Linked DNA regions of Homo sapiens: region 1 is linked to region 2. Evidence: fine-mapped expression QTL. A gene starts in region 2. The other region holds a variant in brackets. All regions are shown on one strand. Distances are between the middles of the regions.

The links. PIP is the estimated chance that this variant, and not a neighbour inherited with it, causes the effect.
Region 1: its variant is fine-mapped to the expression of RHOBTB2 in esophagus mucosa (GTEx, PIP 0.93).

Annotation. Positions count from the first base shown.
Region 1 is chr8:23,100,571-23,110,063 of GRCh38, reverse strand. TNFRSF10C (TNF receptor superfamily member 10c) reads right to left here and starts at 7,143. Exons shown (of 5, transcript NM_003841.5): 1 at 6,883-7,143. The coding sequence starts at 6,942. It overlaps LOC254896 (a long non-coding RNA gene), which reads right to left. Exons shown (of 4, transcript NR_046173.1): 3 at 9,380-9,427; 4 at 6,506-7,367. RefSeq lists an enhancer at 6,269-7,078. The variant A/C (reference allele first, on the strand shown) is at 5,229.
Region 2 is chr8:22,994,874-23,004,033 of GRCh38, reverse strand. It overlaps RHOBTB2 (Rho related BTB domain containing 2), which reads right to left and starts at 4,486. Exons shown (of 10, transcript NM_015178.3): 1 at 3,929-4,486. RHOBTB2-AS1 (RHOBTB2 antisense RNA 1) reads left to right here and starts at 4,229. Exons shown (of 2, transcript XR_007060857.1): 1 at 4,229-4,355. RefSeq lists an enhancer at 1-279 and silencers at 3,777-3,826, 4,157-4,326, 4,547-4,806.

The DNA of each region.
Region 1 (9,493 bases), 110 kb before region 2:
AGGGTCTCCCTCTGTCCTCCATGTTGGAGCGCAGAGTGCAGTGGTGTAATCTCGGTTCACTACAACCTTTGCCTCCTCTGCCTCCCAGGCTCAAGTGGTCCTGCCACCTCAGTCCCCAAAGACAGGTGTGTGCCACAACGCCCATCTAATTTTCACATATTTTGTAGAGCTGGGGTTTCGCCATGTTGCCCAGAGTGGTTTAACTCCTGAGCTCAAGTGATCTGCCTGCCTGGGCCTCCCAAAGTACTGGGATTACAGGCGTAAGCCACCGCACACAGTTGGTTTTCTCAGTTCTTTCTGTGGTTTGTATTCTTTGATTTATGCTCCTTCCTGTTACTTTGTTTGGTTTAAATTTACACTTATATTTTATGATTGATTAATGTAGCTCCTCAGGCCATAATTTTCTTTTTCTTTTTCTTTTTTTTTTTTGAGATGGAGTCTCGCTGTCTCCCAGGCCGGAGTGCAGTGGCACAATCTCGGCTCACTGCAAGCTCCACCTCCCAGGTTCATGCTATTCTCCTGCCTCAGCCTCCCAAGTAACTGGGACTACAGGTGCCCGCCACCACGCCTGGCTAATTTTTTGTATTTTTAGTAGAGACAGGGTTTCACCGTGTTAGCCAGGATGGTCTCGATTTTCTGACCTCGTGATCCACCCTCCTCGGCCTCCCAAAGTGCTGGAATTACAGATGTGAGCCACCGTGCCCGGCCCATAATTTTCACGTTTTTTCTTTTTTTGACAGCTTTAGTGAGACACAATTCACATAATTAATAATTATGATTATTCATATAATTCACCCATTTAAAGTCCACACTTCAGCAGTTTTTAATATACTCATAGCTATGCAATCATCACTATAATCAATTTTAGAATATTTTTATCACTCCAGAAAGGAACTACATACCCTTCAGCAGTAACTCCCCATCTCCCTAACCCCCAGTTTTTTAATACAAACATTGAAAGCTGTATATTTCACCCTGAGCACTGTTAGCTATTTCGCACCACTTTTGATGTGTTATATTGTCATTATTACTTACTTTGAAATATCTTACCTTCCCTTTTGATTTCCTGTCTGAACCACAGATTTTTAGAAGTGTGTTGTTCAATATCAAAATTTTAGAATTCTCTGTGGATATTGTTACTGATTTCCAGTTTAGTTTCATTAAGTTTAGAGATCATATTGTGTGTTTTATAGCCCAGAACCTGGTCTATCTTGGTGAAAGTATCATGAGCATAGAAAGGAATGAGTGTTCAGTGAATGTTCCACTCCTGCTCTTTAAATGTCAGTTAAATCAAGGTGGTTGATAGTGTGCAGATCGCTTGCCACTTTACTGGCATTTTCATCTAATCATGCTAGCAAGTGCAGAGAAACAGCTGAGTTAATCTCTTTTTAATTCTATTTTTGTGTCATGTGTTTTGAAGATGTATTACTAGGCATATACAATTTGTTGTTATTATACTCCTTGAAGAATTAACCCTTTTAACTACAAAGGTCCCTTTTCATCTCCCATAATATTCAATGTCCTAAAATTGTCACAGTAGGCAGCTAGTTAGGTATGAGCAGGACAGGAGAGGGGTCCCCGCTTCTGACACCAGCAGTGTTGGGCGACCATCAGGTAGTTGATAACTGTGTCTCTAAAGTAATAACTGGTTACAGCCGATGCCAGAAAAAAGCAGTTTCCTAATACATAGAAAACACTTGAAACTGATCAGCAGCTTCCCAATAAGATTTCAGGAGTGGGGAGAAGTAAGGCAAGATCCTGGAAGTAGGCCAACCTATAAAACCCCAACTCAGGCGGTCCGGCTGCGTACTGTTTCTCAAGTCACCTGCTTGGCCATCTTCCAAGTGTACTTTCCTTCTTTTCTTTCTGTTCCTTCCTTTCCTTCCTGTTCCTTCCTTTCCTTCCTGTTCTAAAGCTTTTTAATAAACTTTCACTCCTGCTCTGAAACTTGCCTCCATCTCTGCTTCTGCCTTATGCCCCTCAAACCAGTTCTTTCTTCTCAGGAGGCGAAGAGCTGAAGGTGCTGTGGACGCATACGGATTCGCCGCCTTCAACGTAGGGTAACTCGGATCTCATCCACCGCTAACAAAATCAACTTCATCTGATACTGAGATAGCCATGGCAGTTTTCTTGGCCTTACACTCTGCATGGTGTATCTTTTTCCATCTATTTACTTTCAACAGACAACATCTGTGTCTTCCTTTTAAGGCCCATCTCATATAGACAAGATATAGTTGAGTCTTGCTTTCTCAGCCCTTCCAAACATTTCTACCATTGAACTGTAGTGCTCAGTGGATTTACAGGGAGTGCAATAATTGATATAGTTGAAATAGACCTGTAAGTTTACCATTTAAGCTATGATTGTCTAGTCTAATTTTTTTACTCCTTTTCCCCCTGCACATTTTAATGTTAATTACCTTTTAGAATTCCATTTTAATTGGATAAACTGACTTTTTATGCATACCTATTTCCATGATCTATGTGCAAGTGCTATAGGGAATACAGTATACACTCAAGTGTTTACATTCTATTGAAGGTTTTTTAAAAATGGATTCATTGAGGTATAATGGGCATGAAACAAAGTGTACATTTTTGAAGCATGTAGTTTGGTAGATTGAGACGTGTGTATACATTGTGGAACTACCACCACGATAAGAAAATGACATGTCCACCACACCCCAGAATTTCTTCATTCTTCAATGTAATCCTCTCTTCCGCTTTGCTCCTATGTCCCCAGCAATAATTCTGCTTTTTGTCAGAATAGATTGGTCGAATTTTAATGAGAAATGGAATCAGATGGTAAGCATTCTGTGTGGATTCCTTCACACGACATAATTTTCTGTGTTTTTCTGTTTTTCTGTTTGTTTGGTTTTTTGTTGTTGTTGTTGTGACCGGGTTTTGCTATGTTGCCCTGGCTGGTCTTGAACTCCTGGGCTCAAGTGATCTGCCTGTCTTGGCAGGACTACAGGTGTGAGCCATCGCACCCTGCCCACCCTGGTCAATTGACTATTATGAATTAAAGGCTATTGAAAAACAACAGGTGCAAGAAGATCCTTTGACCTCTTTTGTGTTTCCTAAAAGCAGGAGATGAAAGTCCCCAGGGAAACATAGGACAATCTCCTTTTTTTTTTTTTCTGAAAGCTCTGCTTCCCAGGTTCTCACCATTCTCCTGCCTCAGCCTCTCCAGTAGCTGGGACTACAGGCACCCGCCACCACACTCCGCTAATTGTTTTGTATTTTCAGTAGAGACGGGGTTTCACTGTGTTAGCCAGGATGGTCTCGATCTCCTGACCTCGTGATCCACCTGCCTTGACCTCCCGAAGTGCTGGGATTACAGGCGTGAGCCACCGCACCCAGCTGACAATTTCCTTATTTTTAAGGATGAGAAGTCGAGGCCAAGAGGGTACTGTGCAGACCATGTTAGAATGGATCCACTCTCATCTTTTTAGCTCCTCACATAGTTACTTGCTTCTTCATGAGTTACTTGGTCTAATTCAGTAAATAAGTAACTGACTCTCACAGGTTCTTCCATGCCAGGTAAAACTTGAATTAAATAAATGTGTGTGCTTGTCTCCTGTGGACCTCTCTTAGGTGAATCAAATTCTCAGGCCCAGCTAAAAAAAAAAAAAAAAAAATCGGGTGGGGGGGCATCTAAAGGAGAGCTTCGCTCCCCTCCCTGACCCTCAATGGTGACTGTAATCAAACCACATCTTCCAGGCCAACAGTACCACATCCTATGGCCCTGCAACAGCATGGCCTCTCTCCAGCACAGCCTCTCTGGAGGAGGGGGAGGCAAGGGTAGTGAGATCTCAGGCCTCCTTCATGCTACCTCCTATTAGTTATATAATCCCTGGGTCACCTCTCCCACCACACTGCGGGCTCCAGGGAACAGGATTCACATGGGGTTCATTTGTCCTCCCAAACTCCGGCGGACTCCAGGCACAGGTGTTCTCAGAGTAAAGGGCTCACTGTTTACTTCCTGGATGAATCACTTTCCCCTCAAGCCTATGAAGTGCGCGCAGTTGTGGCCTCAGCTCAAGGCCGAAGGACAGGCTCCAAGAGCCCTGTGAACTCTGCTGAGGAACCATAAGAGCTCCCAGAGGCCAAGGGCAGGACAGAGATCAGAGAAGCAGCTGCTCAGAGAACTCTAGCCCTGAATCTCATTTTACCACTTGTAAAACAGGAAAAACAACCTACCTTCATCTCCCCGGGTTGTTAGGAAATCCACTACATGAAGATGTGCATTCTCTGGCTGGAAGCAGGATACCAGCTGCCCAACGGCAGAGGCTCGGGGCATGGCACTGTCCCCACTGTCCCCATCCCTGACCTAGAAGCTAGAGCCTCACTGCCCTGCCACTCCTGGATACACGACAGAGGACCAGAACTGGGACTGTGGCCTCTCAGTACAGCCTGGGTGAGTAGCCATCTGCAGCCACCTGGATGGAGACATTTCCTGCTCACTCTTCAAACTACAACCCGGGCCAGGCGCCTACCAGAAGGACAACTGGAAGCATGGCAGGTAAACCAGGCTGTGGCCCTGCAGTGCCATCGCTGTCCTCACTTGACGTCTGGCTCCTCTGTTCCTCCATGGCCCCTCCCCGTGGTGCTCCACCCTAGTCTTCAGAAGCTTCTGCCCCAAGCTCAGGGAGCAAGTACCAGGGTGCAGGTAGGAACAGGGGCAGCCTCTGCTGGATGGAGGACAGGTGCCTGGGGATCCAGTCCAGAGTGAGTGACACCAGCCCTGAGGATGTGATTTGTCCTCCCACACCTGGTAACACAGCCCTCTGAGGTTTACACAGGGCTGCTGAAGATTTTTACCTCCTCTTCACTTTACAGGCAGGAGCTGGGGCCACACCAGAGTCACAGAGCCAGAGGGGGAGCACGGCAGGGCCCAGCCATTCACAACCTTCAATCTCAGGAGTCCTTGACAGCCTGAGAGTCCGAGATTCTGAGCCGTTGGAACTTCTCAATTCCTACTTTGATAGAGAGAGGAATGGTGTGGAAGGACCTGGCGCACAGATTGGACCAGCCCAGCATTGACAGAGCCAGGACCTGGGGTCAGGAACTGAACTCAGCTCCAGGCTCATCTGAAGTCACCCTGACAGGCTGAGGATGGAGACCTTATCTCCATTCACAGGCATGGTGGGTGGCAGGGACTGGCCCCAACTGACCAGGGTTTTCCAAGTGCACAGCTCAGAATTCAGTCTTCCCTGCTGTCTCATCTGGAT[A/C]CCCTGGTCTACTCCCAGTACCAAAAAACTCCTATATCCTTGAAAATTCCTAATACCATGAGGAAACAAAAATACATAGCAATGTGATGTGTTATGTTTTACATCTTAGACTAGTAAAGAATGAAAGCTAAGTGTAGCAAAGGTGTAGGGACACAGGCACATTTGTGGACTAGGTGTGACTGTAAGCTGGGTTCAGTGGTTTTTTGGAGGAAAATTCGTGAACATTTAAAGAAACTTCTGAAGTCATTTATCCCACAGAAGGAGAAGTAGAATTCAACTTGTAAGGAGTTGCCCAATAAGCTGGTGTGCATGGATATGTGGACACACGATACATACAAGGGTATTTAGTACAATGCTGTTGGAATTAGCAAAGGCCGTCAGGATGGGATCTAACCAGCTGCCCCTAGGCGGCAACAGTGAATTAAAATGTGGCTTACCCATGCAGTAAAATACAATACCCTTGTTTAAAAGAAGATCAATCTGAATGTACTGCCATAAAACATCTAATGTGATTTGTGTTAGCTCCAAAATTTAACAAAGTGATTGTACATTTAAATGCATTTAATAAGGCAAGACTGATGGAGGGATTAAAGCCTCCTTTGGGACGCATAGAGTTCACATTCCCAAAACCGTGAAACTGATGTTGCTGGCCTTGTCTACACTGGTCATCCATGCATTCTCTCTTCAGGGCCACTGTCCTGACACAGCCATTCTTCTAGCTGCCTCAGGTAAGTCCACCCACTATAAACTATTTTAAAAGTCAGTTGTGTAATTTTTGAGAGGTGAAAATGTTACTGCTTTTCTGAATTTAGCATTAATTTGTAGAAAGACAACATGCAAACTCTCATGGTTTCTGTAACCTTGCTTTGGCCTTTTCTTTTTCTTTTTTCTTTTTTTTGTATTACATAAAGAATCTTAAAAAGGGCTGTTAGCAAAAACCTCAATCAATCTGAAAGAGACCTAGAAGTCTGCATATTTTATACATAATATGTCCTTGCACTCACACTACTACCAATCTCAGTTTCCAAAGCCAACTCACAACAACTTTACACCGTTTATGCTGAAGGAAGGGGCCAGCCCCGGTCCTGCCTATGGGATACAGAGGGGACACACGGGTGGTAGTGGAAGACATTAACCAAGGCAGCACCTTGGTTAACCGCTTCCTGCCACATTCCGGCTTCCTGCCACTTTCAGGACAGAGGAGGTGAAAGTTGCTAAAGACAGCGCTGAAAAGTTTTTTCACTGGCTGTTGGTTAAACCGATCTCCAAGGAACACGTTTAAGAATGTAAACATGGGGTTAATTTTATTAACTAATTAATTAATTAATGAGAGAGGCAACCGCTCTGTGTCTTCAGGAGGCTCACTCTATGGGTTCCACCTTGACTCCCTCCCTCTCTCGATTCTGGAACTTCCCTCCCTTCGCGGGCTCGGGGCAGCCAGGGGGACCGCCTCTCTGCTCCCTCGCGGCCGGGTCCCTCCTGCCCAGCCCGGGGACCCAGTTCTTCCCCTGACTCCGACGGCGAGTTCGTCCTGCCCGGACATGCCCGGCCGCAGGTGACCAGGGCCAGGCATCCCTGCCGTGTCCCCGTCTCCCTGCCCCCTCCCGGCGCCAGGTGCGCTCTTCCCCAGCCAGGGACCGCGGCCGGGACTCACTGGCAGCAGGACCGCGACGATGACGACGACGAACTTTAGGGTCTTGGGGATCCGGGCCATGGTATGGTTCCCGACGCCGTCCTGGGTCCTGGGTCGCACCCTGCCTCGGCCATCAGGCGGCCGGGGCGCTCTGTCCCCAGAGTTCCCTAACGGTAGGAAGCGCTCCTTCACCCCTTGCATCTCTGGTCAAACTCCCAAAAATCTATCAGAAATCGTTGGCTGAGTTCGTGCGCGTGGAGAGGTTCCCACAGCTGCACTGCCAGAATCGGAGCGCAGCGCCTCTGAATTTATACCCGCGGGGGAAAAGGCGTGGTCACTTGTCACTTGCAGCAGTCACTTCCAAGCACTCAGAAAAGGGGCATGGCCTCCCCTAGCACCTCCAGGAAGGCCTGGGTTTTGGTGGTGGGTGCATGGACGGACAGGAACTGGCTCTTTCCGGCAGCGGTGACCCAGGGCCTGCGGTTTGATTCCGGGTCCTGTCCAGGCTGTAGGCAGCAGAAGGGGAAGGAGCTGAGGCGCTGCCCACTGCGCTGCTGTAGTCTGGGTAGTGAGCTCCAGAGGAGGCACTGGAGGCCCATCCTGAGCCTGCTCCCTCCCCGGGACGCCTGTCTCTCCTCTTCTTAAACCCTGAACTACCTCCTGGCCTAAGGACTTCAGTCCACTCTTAGCTTCTGCTCCCACTCCCTCCTCCCACAGCGGCCTCACTGACCAGTGCACTGATGCCACTGATGTCTCCAGCCTCCTTGCTGCTGTGACCCAGCTCCAAGCTTCTCTGGCAGGGGCTTGGTATCCCTCAGTAGCGGGTGCCTGGCACCAAGGAGGGGCCCAGTGAACACATGAGTGGACAGAATGAAGGACACAGGGGCCATGACGGGCACATGCAGAGGCTGAGGAGTAGGTAGGAGGGAGAGGAACCCCGGGGGCATCCCTAGCCACAACCTGGCACCCTTTGCATGGTCGAGGCACAGACACTCTCTGGCCGACCTTGTGGGCTCTAGTATTGAGGCCCCATGGACAGAGGAGGCCCAGGGGAGTGGCTTCCAAAGCCTGTCCCCCAGTCAAGTGTCTATCCAGGTCCAACTATCTGACCTTGGGCTACTCACCTCCCCATTGAGTTAAGCACACTGCTGCTGTGTGGAGAGATCCAATGTGTGGTACTGAAGGGTGCCAGCCTGTGACCCTAGGCAGTAAGGTCAATGGCACAACTCCTAGACCCTTGGGGTGAGTCGGCTCCTGACCTCTCACATGGTGGATAAAAGAGGATAGCACTATAGAAACAAAGATTTTTTTTTCTGCTCATCAGAAACCTGGGAATGATATGTCATCCTCTCCACAGGCTTGGATTTGAGCAATGGAGTGCCCTGGGCACCTGCCAGGCCCCAGGCACTGAGTTCGGATCAGAAATGTGTGCCAGGTCGCAGGCACTGAGAAATGTGTGGAGTCAGGAATGTGTGCTGGGGGCAGATCTAGGCAGGAGGTGAGAGGACAGGACTTCAGGAAGACTGACAGCATTAACACAGAGCCACGAGGGCCTGCAGGAAAGTCTTTAGAGCACTCCAGGCCCCTTGGCCCTGGAGGGTGGACTACACAGTGTAGACTAGAAACCAGACTGCAGGTAACACACATTCTCTGTGCCCTGTGTGGAGCACTGCCTAGGGCTAATGGCAAAAGGCTGTGAGCACCTCCAGGGAACTGGGCCTTTAGACTATAAAGTTTCCATTTGAGAGGCACTTACTAGCTTACGATGGAACACTAGCTGAAGCTCCCCCTGTGACTGAAGGACATAAAATAATCTTGAAACCTGAAAAACTCATGATGTCTTCAGAGATCTTGGAAAAGCTCTAACGGGGAGGGCAGTCCCCGAAGAGTTCTATTACAAAATGGAAATGGTTGATACGGGATCCTGGTGCCTGAGGAAGGCAAAGAGGAGACACTCATGAGCAGGGAGCCTCTGTTCCCCACAGACTGAGTCTGGAACTGAGTGAGGAGCTGCTGGATTCTGTGGTCACTTGGACACTGCCCTATACGCAGCTCTTTACTGACCAACCAAGAGCTACTTAGTTTGTAGACAGTCATTCCTAGGTGAATGGTCAACATCCTATTTGGAAGGCCACCCCTCTGATGGAAGAAGGCAAAGGCAAATTGGCTAGGTGGGTTGGATTGCATGCTGTTTTCCTAGCGTGATGGAAGATTTGACAGCAGCAAAAGCCCCTGTACTTGAGTTGTTTTCTGGCTCATGAACAGTCCTCAACGTCTTGGTCATAGAGTTGGGAAGCAGAATGTGAAAGTTGATTGCACAAATTGGGTCATTCTTGTCACACCCAACTAAAACAGAGTCAAGAGGCCATGGGGAAGAAAAATCACTGTATTACCCCCAAACTGCAATTCTCTGTAAGCCTGGCAGCTGTAACCTGAAACTATTAATAGTCCTATCTAATATCTATGGACATAACCTGCTACTGCTCTAAGACCAGCCTGACCCACTGCAGTCACTCACCAGTCAGAGCACGCCTCTTCTTCAAATTTGACAGTGCCAATGAGCTTCCTAGAAAAAAAAATAATTAGTATTTCTCCTTTTTTTTTTTTTTTTTTTTGAGATGGAGTCTCGCTG
Region 2 (9,160 bases):
CAACAAACAGCTGAGAGAAGCAGAGTCGGCCACGTCCCCACCCCTTCCCAGCATGCCTGAGGGCAGGGCACTTTAAAATTTAATGGACTTGTCAGAACTGGGCAGCAGCTCTCCTGGCCTCCACTCTTTCCCTTGCCCTCTCTGGTGGTGGTGGATTTCCAAGCCCTAGCCTGCCTAAGTGCATGCTTCAACCCCAGACCCCAGTCCCCTTTATGGAGATGCAAGAGTTTTTCCTCCCAGCCTCTCTAGGATGGGGAGGTTCCTGGATGCACCTGACCAGCCCAGGGGCCTCCCTTTCTCTATTCGGGGTCTGTCCTGTTGCCCATGTGTCATGCTCAGCTACAGGTCCAGCTTTCAGATGCGGGTGAGGGGAACCACAGGCCTATGATGATACAGTCAGTGGCCAATGGGCCTCTACTTCCCCTACGGGGGGCTGTCCTCCCAGCACCCTGCCCCCAGCGTCAGAGAGTGAGATCCACCTCCACCCTCTTCTGCCCTTCCCATTCCTAGGGAGGATGATCCTCAGGCTGAAGATCCCAGGCAGCTGGCACTCCTAGGTGATGTTCACTAAACTGGCTACATGGGCGATGGGATTGCCAGAAAGCAAAAGATCAGAAATTTGAGCCTGAATTTCTGGGCAAATGCTTGCCTCAGTTGCCTTCGATGTTGAGCAGAGAGGAAGTGGCTTGTCCACCCCCAGAGAGGGATGGCTTGAATGAACAAACAGAAGGCACTTCTGTAGTCAGATGTCATGTTCGTGTTTAAAAATCTGTCGCCAGGAGGCCCTGGCCTCGGCATCCACCCTCCTGGGATTAGGGAGCAGGGGCAGGGCCAGCGTGATTAGGACGCTTGGTTTCGCCAGCGTCATCTGCCCGCCCCACTCACATTCCTGTGTGTATGAAAGTCGTCTGGGGGGGCTTTAGCAGCCCGGAGTCATCCCTCCTAGGCTAAGGAAGGCTGAGCTCTGAGTGCTGGAGGCTGCCCAGGCACCCTGGCTGCTGAGCCATCCAGCCCAGAGCCAGGCCACCAGCAACAACAGGGAGGCTCCATTCCTGCTGGGCTGTAACTGGATGCCAGCATGCAGGGATGCAGACCGAAATATCCAAGTAACGATAGCAACTGGGATCCGTGCGAGTGGATGCATCTCAGCAACCTAAGCAAAAAGTGCAGCAAGGACTTCTCAATGAGACAACCTCCTCCGCCTTTTTGGAATGTTACAGGATCTGGACCCTTCAACGAGGTCTCCATGCAGTGCCCTCATGGTCTCCAGGGCAACTGTACCACCCCTTCTCTCTCCTAACCCTCCCTCAGCAGACAACCGTTTTTTGTTTTTGTATTTTTTTGAGACGGAGTTTTGCGCTTGACACCCAGGCTGGAGTGCAGTGGCATGATCTCGGCTCACTGCAGCCTCTGCCTCCTGGGTTCAAGTGATTCTCCTGCCTCAGCCTCCCAGGTAGCTGGGATTACAGGTGTGTGCCACTATGCCGGCTAATTTTGTATTTTTAGTAGATACGGGGTTTCGCCATGTTGGTCAGGCTGGTCTTAAACTCCTGACCTCAAGTGATCTGCCCGCCTTGGCCTCCCAAAGTGCTGGGATTACAGGCGTGAGCCACCACACCTGGCCCAGAGAACTGTTAAGAACTGTTATTCTAACCACAGGCTTCCTCCTCCCAATTCTCTCTCCTGAACTGAGGACCGGGAACCCCACTTTGACAGTTCCTGATCTCAAGTTGAGGAATGTGCTGGCGCCAGGAGGCAGCATCTGGGCTGTGGTTTCTGTTTTGTCGAGTGAATACCAAAACAGATATAATCCCAAATACAAAATATGTGCAGCTGGAGGATAAAGATTAAAACCCAAGAGCCAAAAGAACTTCTTTCTCAAGTTCCGATTCTCCCAGCATGTAGGTCTGTAGACAGAAGCGGGGGAATGAGGAGGCCTAATGGAGGGATGCCAGTTCTCAAATTCAGGAGCACCTTGACAGTGAGAATAATGCCAGAACACCAGCAGAGCAGTGCTGGGCCAAGTTCAGCTACTTTGTGATGAAAACACTGCTGCCCACCTGTGCTATGTCACCTCTAGAGTTAAGCAGTGGTCAGCCAATCAACAAGTGGAAATTGACAAATACTGTGCCATGAGTTTAGACATCAGACCTTCTGGGTTGCGCAACCCCTTCCATCCATTCCCCAGCCCCTTCAGCAGTCCCCTTGTCCTTCAGCTGCCTCTCTGTTTGTATCATCTCACCCTTTCTACCCTGTCCCAACTGCCTGACTGGCAAACTTCACTGTCCTATCTAGGAAGAGGCAAGTCACTTATATTTTCTGGGCATCAGTCTCCCCCTCTGGGAAATGGGTATGAAGACATTGGAAGAGTCTCCTGAACCGTGGTTAATTTGTGCCAAGAGAGGCTGGGCTGAAAGGAGGTATTTGTCTTCTTATGTAATGTGGTATTATATAATGCTAGATTGCATATCTATATGTGTAATTATATCTGTCTTTAAGATACAGACTGGCCCAATTCAAGTGTTAGAACTCTTAGTCTAATCAGGCCTGTCTTAAAGGAGGATCCTGTCCTGGAGAGAGTGTGCCAAGAGTAATATAATTTTTGCCCTAGGATGTTGCTGATGTTGTATCATTGCTGATGTATGGTGATACAGCCCACTCATTGCTGATATATGGTGATACAGCCCATTCAGTGAGCCTCTCAGCTTCCCCTCTCCCTCCGGCTCTCTCTTCTTCCCTGACTCCAGACTCTCCCTCACAATTGCCTCATCCCCACTCAATCAACCTCCATAAACTATGACCTCCTCACCACCCAGCCCTGGGCATCACAACCCCCAACTCACTCCTCTTCCATGACAATCGCAAAGTCACTGGCATGTGTTCCTTCCATCCCTGTCCCATGATCCCTGTGCCCCTCCAAAAACAGCCTCCTGCCCACCGCTCTCCCAGCTCTTTGTACTTGGTGCAAGCCAAAACCCAAGGTGTGCTGAAATTAGCTACAAACCTCGTGCTCTCCCAGTCCCACCCCCACACCCCTACACACACTCTTTGCAGAGCTCAGAAAGGGCCCCTTTCCCTCCCACAGCTGATAGGAGGCTTGTTCATCTGTGGCTGCCCTAGTCTGGTTGTCAAGGAAACAACAGAATCTCCCTGGGAGCCTGGCTTGTCTCCTAGCAACCAGTATCCCACATCATCTTACAAAATGGGAATGGGAGGAAAATCCTGAAAATGAAGGTAAAATCAAGGGAGATGGATTGAATGGAGAATTGGAAGGAGAAGAACAAAGAGAGAGTGGACTCCTAATTCGGGGAGGCTCCCACGGGGGTCGCTGGCATTGCAAGAAGCCCCGTGCAGATCCAACAGAAAGCAAGGCCCAAAGGGACCCTGAATGGTCAGATTAAAGAAATGCAAGCCTAAACACAGATAAGCCCCCTCAAACCTAAAATGTGGACACATCACCAAACACCGCCAAAGATCTCCCCAGTAGTTTCACAGAACTCAGTTACATAGACTGCAATGGAGTTGAGTTCAAAGAACCAGCTCCGGAACCGCCAGCAAAACACCCCAATTCCACTGTTGTTTTGTGTTTGTTTTCTTAACAGAATCACTCCCACCACTCTGGACCGTTTTTCCTTTTTTCTGACACGCTACTCTGCACACACACAAAATAGAAATTTAAAAATTTTTAAACATCGAGAAGGGGGAGGGGCACGACAGGCCGAAGCAATCAAGTCATCTTCCTTTCCCTAGAAACACCGGAAAGGATTAGGCTCCAGCCCCGCTGTACCCAGCAGCCGAAGCCAGAGCCCAGGGACTAGCGGGGCCCGGGGAACGTAGCGAGGGGCGCGGCAGGGCAGGGAGGGCGGAGCGGCGCGTCTGCAAGGGCTGCTGGCCACCCCGCCATAACCGCAAGCAGCCATCTACTTACACCACTACATGTGACGGGGTGGCTTCTAGCGTGAGGAACACATCTCTTCCTGCTGAGCACGCTCATTTTAGTGAAATGTCAGGGGTCCCTCCGCGCCTGCAAGTTGGGACGACGCCGGCGCCGCCGCGCTGCTGCTGGGCTCCAGCCTCCCGGCCAGCTCGCGGCCACTCAGAAACTCCGGCAGGGCAGCCCAGGCCGGACGTGGGCCCAGGAGCGGACGCGCGCGCTGCACTGCAGCCGCTGCCCCTTCCGGATCAGCATCGCCCCGCGCGCCAGGCGCCCAATGTCACGGCGGCGCGCGGAGCCGGGCTGCGGAGGCAGCGGGCGGCGCGCAGGGGCGCCGGGAGAGGGGCGAGGCCGCCGCCGCTACGCGCCCGGGCCCGCGGCGAAGGCGCTGCCGCGAAGACGCCTGGCGCTGCAGTCCCAGGTACCGCTCGCGACCTCCTTTTTTCATTCACAAAAAAAGGATAGGGAAAAAAAAAAGAAAAGAAAAAAACGGGAGGGTAAAAAAAGGAGGAGAAAAAAATCGCACCCAAGACGACAGCCGTGACGGGCCCCGCCCACTGCCGCGCGCAGTTGGTGGAAAGCGTTCGGGGGGCGGGGAGGGGGCGGGCGGGGGAAGAAGGGGATTGGACGCCCCGCAGATCCCGCCTCGCAGCACCGCTCCCGCCCACCGCCCGCGCTCTTCCGCCCCTCCCGCAGCGACGCCGCGGGGAGGGTCTCGGCTCGCGGGTCTGGGTGGCGCCGGTCCCTCCACCTGGCGAGGCGCAAAGGCTCTCCGGACGCCCACGGGGTTTTCCCCTTTCCTTCGGGAGGCGGGGGAGAACCTCTGAGAGGCATCCTAGTGCACCCTGGAAGGGATGCTAGTTGGAGGAGAACGTGTGGTTGTAAGCCCAGGCCCCCACCACTTGCCCACGGGGAGGCGACGGCAGGGGCAGTCGGGGGGGCGGGGGGCGGGGGCCGGGTAGGGACGAATAACCGGCGTTTCCATACAAGCCCTCTGCTGCTTTGGGAATTTTCGTGGCACTTGAGAGCCTTCCTCCCTCCATGGCCCTTAATGAGTTGTGGGGTGGGTACCTGTACCACGTTACCTGTCTCCCACCTAGGCCTTCTTCAGCGGGTCCCCACCTCCATCCCATCCCCCTCCTGTTGCCTCCTGGAGTTCAGTAATAGCTGCTAATCTCTGAAAGAAACACCATGAAGTGAGTAGCCTCGAAAATCGTCCCTAAGCCTTCTTTGGGTTTTCTGCCTCAATTTACCCCTCTGTAAAATAGAGAGATTCTAAGGTATAACATCTATAACCTGAGGGGTCCCTAGAAGACACTTTCCATATTCAAGGCTGGTTTTATCAGGATAATCTTTTTTTTTTTTTTTTTTTTTTGAGTCTCCCTCTGTTGCCCAGGCTGGAGTGCAGTGGTGCAATCTTGGTTCACTGCAACCTCCGCCTCTTGGGTTCAAGCAGTTCTGCCTCAGCCTCCCGAGTAGCTGGGACTACAAGTGCACGCCACTATTCCCAGCTAATTTATGTATTTTTGGTAGAGACGGGGTTTCACCACCTTGGCCAGGCTGGTCTCGAACTCCTGACCTCGGGTGATCTGCCTGCCTTGGCCTCCCAAAGTACTAGGATTACAGGCGTGAGCCACCATGCCCAGCCAGGATGATCTTGACTGCTAGTGTTAAGTAGTCAGCTCAGTCTGGTTTGATTCATCTCCTCAGTTACCTCTGGACAATTTTTAAAGCCCAGACCAGCCTGCCACCCACCTGAACCGCCTCCACCACTCCTCCATCTTGTGCTCTGAAAATGCAAATCCACTCTAATATTAGTTTATGCAAAATATGATTAGGAAGAGAAATTTACTGCCAAAAGAAAGCCGGGTTAAAAATGAATTTTGTGTTGTCTGAAGCATGCTTCTCATCTGTGAATGCATATACTTGGAAGCTGTCCCTCAAGGTGTTTGTGATCAACGTGCCTACCTACCTGGTCAATGTACAGGAAGTGCTCGGTTGTTGGAGGATGCTTCTCCCACCCCTTTCTCAATCTACTCAGAGCTAGCCAAGAGGTTAACAATGACTGACAGTGCTACTTACTTCTCATTTCTGGTTAGAACTCACCCTCCATAAACCAGAAAGTACTTATTTGAATACATATTTAGGAGAGAAAGTAAACCATGCTCACACATGTTCTTCCTCCACATGTTTGGCATTGAAGAGACTTACCCCATCTTCTGTGTGCCAAAGAGCCCCTGCGCCAGAGAAAATCATAACTTGAGATCTCTGCATGATTCCCACGGCAGGCCAGGGTCTCTCCCACGGACACCCTGTTCCCTCCACCCACCTCCAGAGACCAGCTGAATGCCAGATGCCAGTTGACATCACCTTTCACCTGTCCTGGCAGGACCATAGCCCCTGTGGAGCAAGGAGTAGGAAGACAGAACTCCCGTCCACCCAAAGTCATGAAGCAGGAGAGGGTGGCTGCTCGGACTGTAAGCTAGAGCCAATGCCCTTTCTGCCTTGGGAGAAAAAGCCAGCTCAGCCTGGAAGCCTCAACCAGGCTGGACTGTGTGAATTCCAAGGTGTAGTGTTGATTGGGGTGGAAGGGTCTTGGACAAAAATGTGGGTGTCAAATGAAATTGCACCCCCACAGCCCCCGCCCCGCCCCGCTCACACTCAGTGAACTGTTTCAGGCAGAGGCAGGAGCTTTGCTGGGGAGGTTCCCTCAATTCCCAGCCCTGCTTTTTGCATGCAGTTCCCTCTTTCAGCCTTTCTCCAAATCAAAGTCCTTCCCCATCATTTCACCTCTAGGGCTGTCATGGTTGGCGCCCCAATCAGTTCCCTCTTATCATCAGAGTTCCTCCAAGTCCCCACCTTCTCCTACCAGTGCCCCCCAGCCCATCCTCTGCAGCCCCTTGTCACTGTCAAGCCGCCCCATCCATGTCCCACCCTAGGCCGTCTGGGGACCTCTGCAGACCTCCTCCTCAGGCCAGCCTGCGAGGAGCTCCAGCGGTTCACTACTCACAGCTCAGATGGCAGCATTCCCCACGCTGTATGAGGGGCAGACCACTAGCAAGCTGCAGCCGCCGGCCTGTGCCCCAGTTGTGGCTAAAACCAGGCCTCTTCCCAGCCAGCCCTGGCCAGGACTGCCCCGGGACCCCCACTCTGCTATTCAAGACAGCCTCCAGCCCCTGGTACCCCAGCTGAGGATCTGGCACGTCCCTTCATCTTTGCCCATCTCTCCAATGCCAGATCCTGGAAAACAGGGCCACTCCCAGAGGCCAGGCTTCCCCACCAGCAAGCAAGGTGCTGTTGGGCCTTCTCATGCCCATCCCTGTCCCCAGCTGTTAGCACCCGGCAGGCAGCAGCGTCTCACAGCACAGGAAGCCTCCCACTCCCTTCACTGCGCCCTCCCACCCCAGGCCCTGAGGAGTCCATTTTCCTCTATTCAGGTGACTTCTCAAGGCAGGCCTGGGTGGGAGACAAAAGCTCCTGGCCTCTTTCTTTCTCTGCCTCCTCCATTCCGTTACATACACAGACACACAGACACACACACACACACACACACACACACACACACACACACACACACACACACACACACACACACACACACACCAGCCCTCTCTGCCCATTTGCTGCAGCTTGGAAACACTGGTGTGATTCCGAGGAGCAGTTCAGCCTGAGCACTGACTCCCCCCATTGCTGGCTTCCCAAATCTGCTTCTGCTGGTGGGTCTGGCAATGTCCTGCCATGTGCCTGGCTGCGTGGCTGTAGCCCAAGGGCTTCCTGGCAGCATGGAGGCAGGTTCCATTCTACAATCTCCTGCCCCTGCCCAACCCCAGCATCTCTTCCCTCACCAAATCCCTCTTGTGACCCACCTCCCCAGTGACATAAACCCCTGGAACCTGTCCCCAGAAGGCACCCCCTCTATGCCTCCCCACACCACCCTCCTCCAGGCCATCACGCGGCTGCTGTTTTCCTGAAGCCGGGCAGATGCCTGCCTGTGAACAGGAGGCTTTTCTGGGGAAAGAGAAACCTCCATCCTGGCTCTTAGCAAAGCGCAGCAGGCTCCCCGGCCAGTCCCACCAGCGTTGCTCTCCCTGTGGCTGTGAAGGCCCCTTCCCAGTGCCAGCCCAACGCAGACCGCCTGGCTCAGTCCATCCTCCAACCTGCACCTTCCCTTTGCTTCACAGGCAGCTTTACCCTTCAACACTTTGCAGGCTACTAACCGCGCTTTCATGGCACCCCTCTCCTGGAACACTACAGCCTCTGCGGAGCCCACCCCATGGGCCTTGTGACATGAGCTCCGCCCCCCATCCCCTGCCATGTGCAGGCTGGGGCACGTGGTGTTCCTACCCTGCAGCTGGGGCAAAGTTCAGAACCAGCCATGAGCAAAAGCAGAGGCATTTCAAGATGCAGAGCCCCAGCAGGGTGAAGGAGCTGAATCTGGAAAGCCTAGAGTCTCTCAGCCTCCCTGTCCAGGCCTTAAGGGACACCATCAGGTCCCCACAAGGATACAGGAAGCTTCTGGGACTTTGCACAAGCAGTTCTTCAGTCCGAACACTCTATTTCTACTCCTTTCACCAGATAAATGTGTACTCATCTTTCAAGTCTCAGCCTAGATATCACTTCCTCCAGCAAGCCTTCCATGAATACTTTCTTACACTTGACAAAGTGTAACTTTCCTGTTCTTCCCCTGTGCTCCCCTAATAATACCAATCACACCAATCTATCATTGGGTTCTTCTCTGTCCTTGATTGTACTGAGAACTCCCTGGGACCGGCAGGGGAGCTTTCGTAAGAGCCAGGATGCAGATTTCTCTTTCCTCAGACAAGGTTCCTGCTCACAGGCCAGGAAGCAACACTATAATGCTTGTTCAGGCCGGGTGTGGTGGCTTATGCCTGTAATCTCAACACTTTGGGAGGCCGAGCTGAGAGAATAGCTTGAGGTTAGGAGTTGGAGACCAGCCTGGGCAATATAATAAGACCCTGTCTCTATTAAAAAAAATTTTTAAAAAAGATAATGCCTATTCGAAAAGGTATTTTGAACCTGGCGCGGTGGCTCATGCCTGTAATCCCAGCACTTTGGGAGGCCAAGGCAGGTGGATCACCTGAGGTCAGGAGTTTGAGACCAGCCTGGCCAACAAGGTGAGTCCCCTTCTCTACTAAAAATACAAAAATTAGCTGGGCGTGGTGGCATGTGCCTGTAATCCCAGCTACTCGGGAGGCTGAGGCAGGA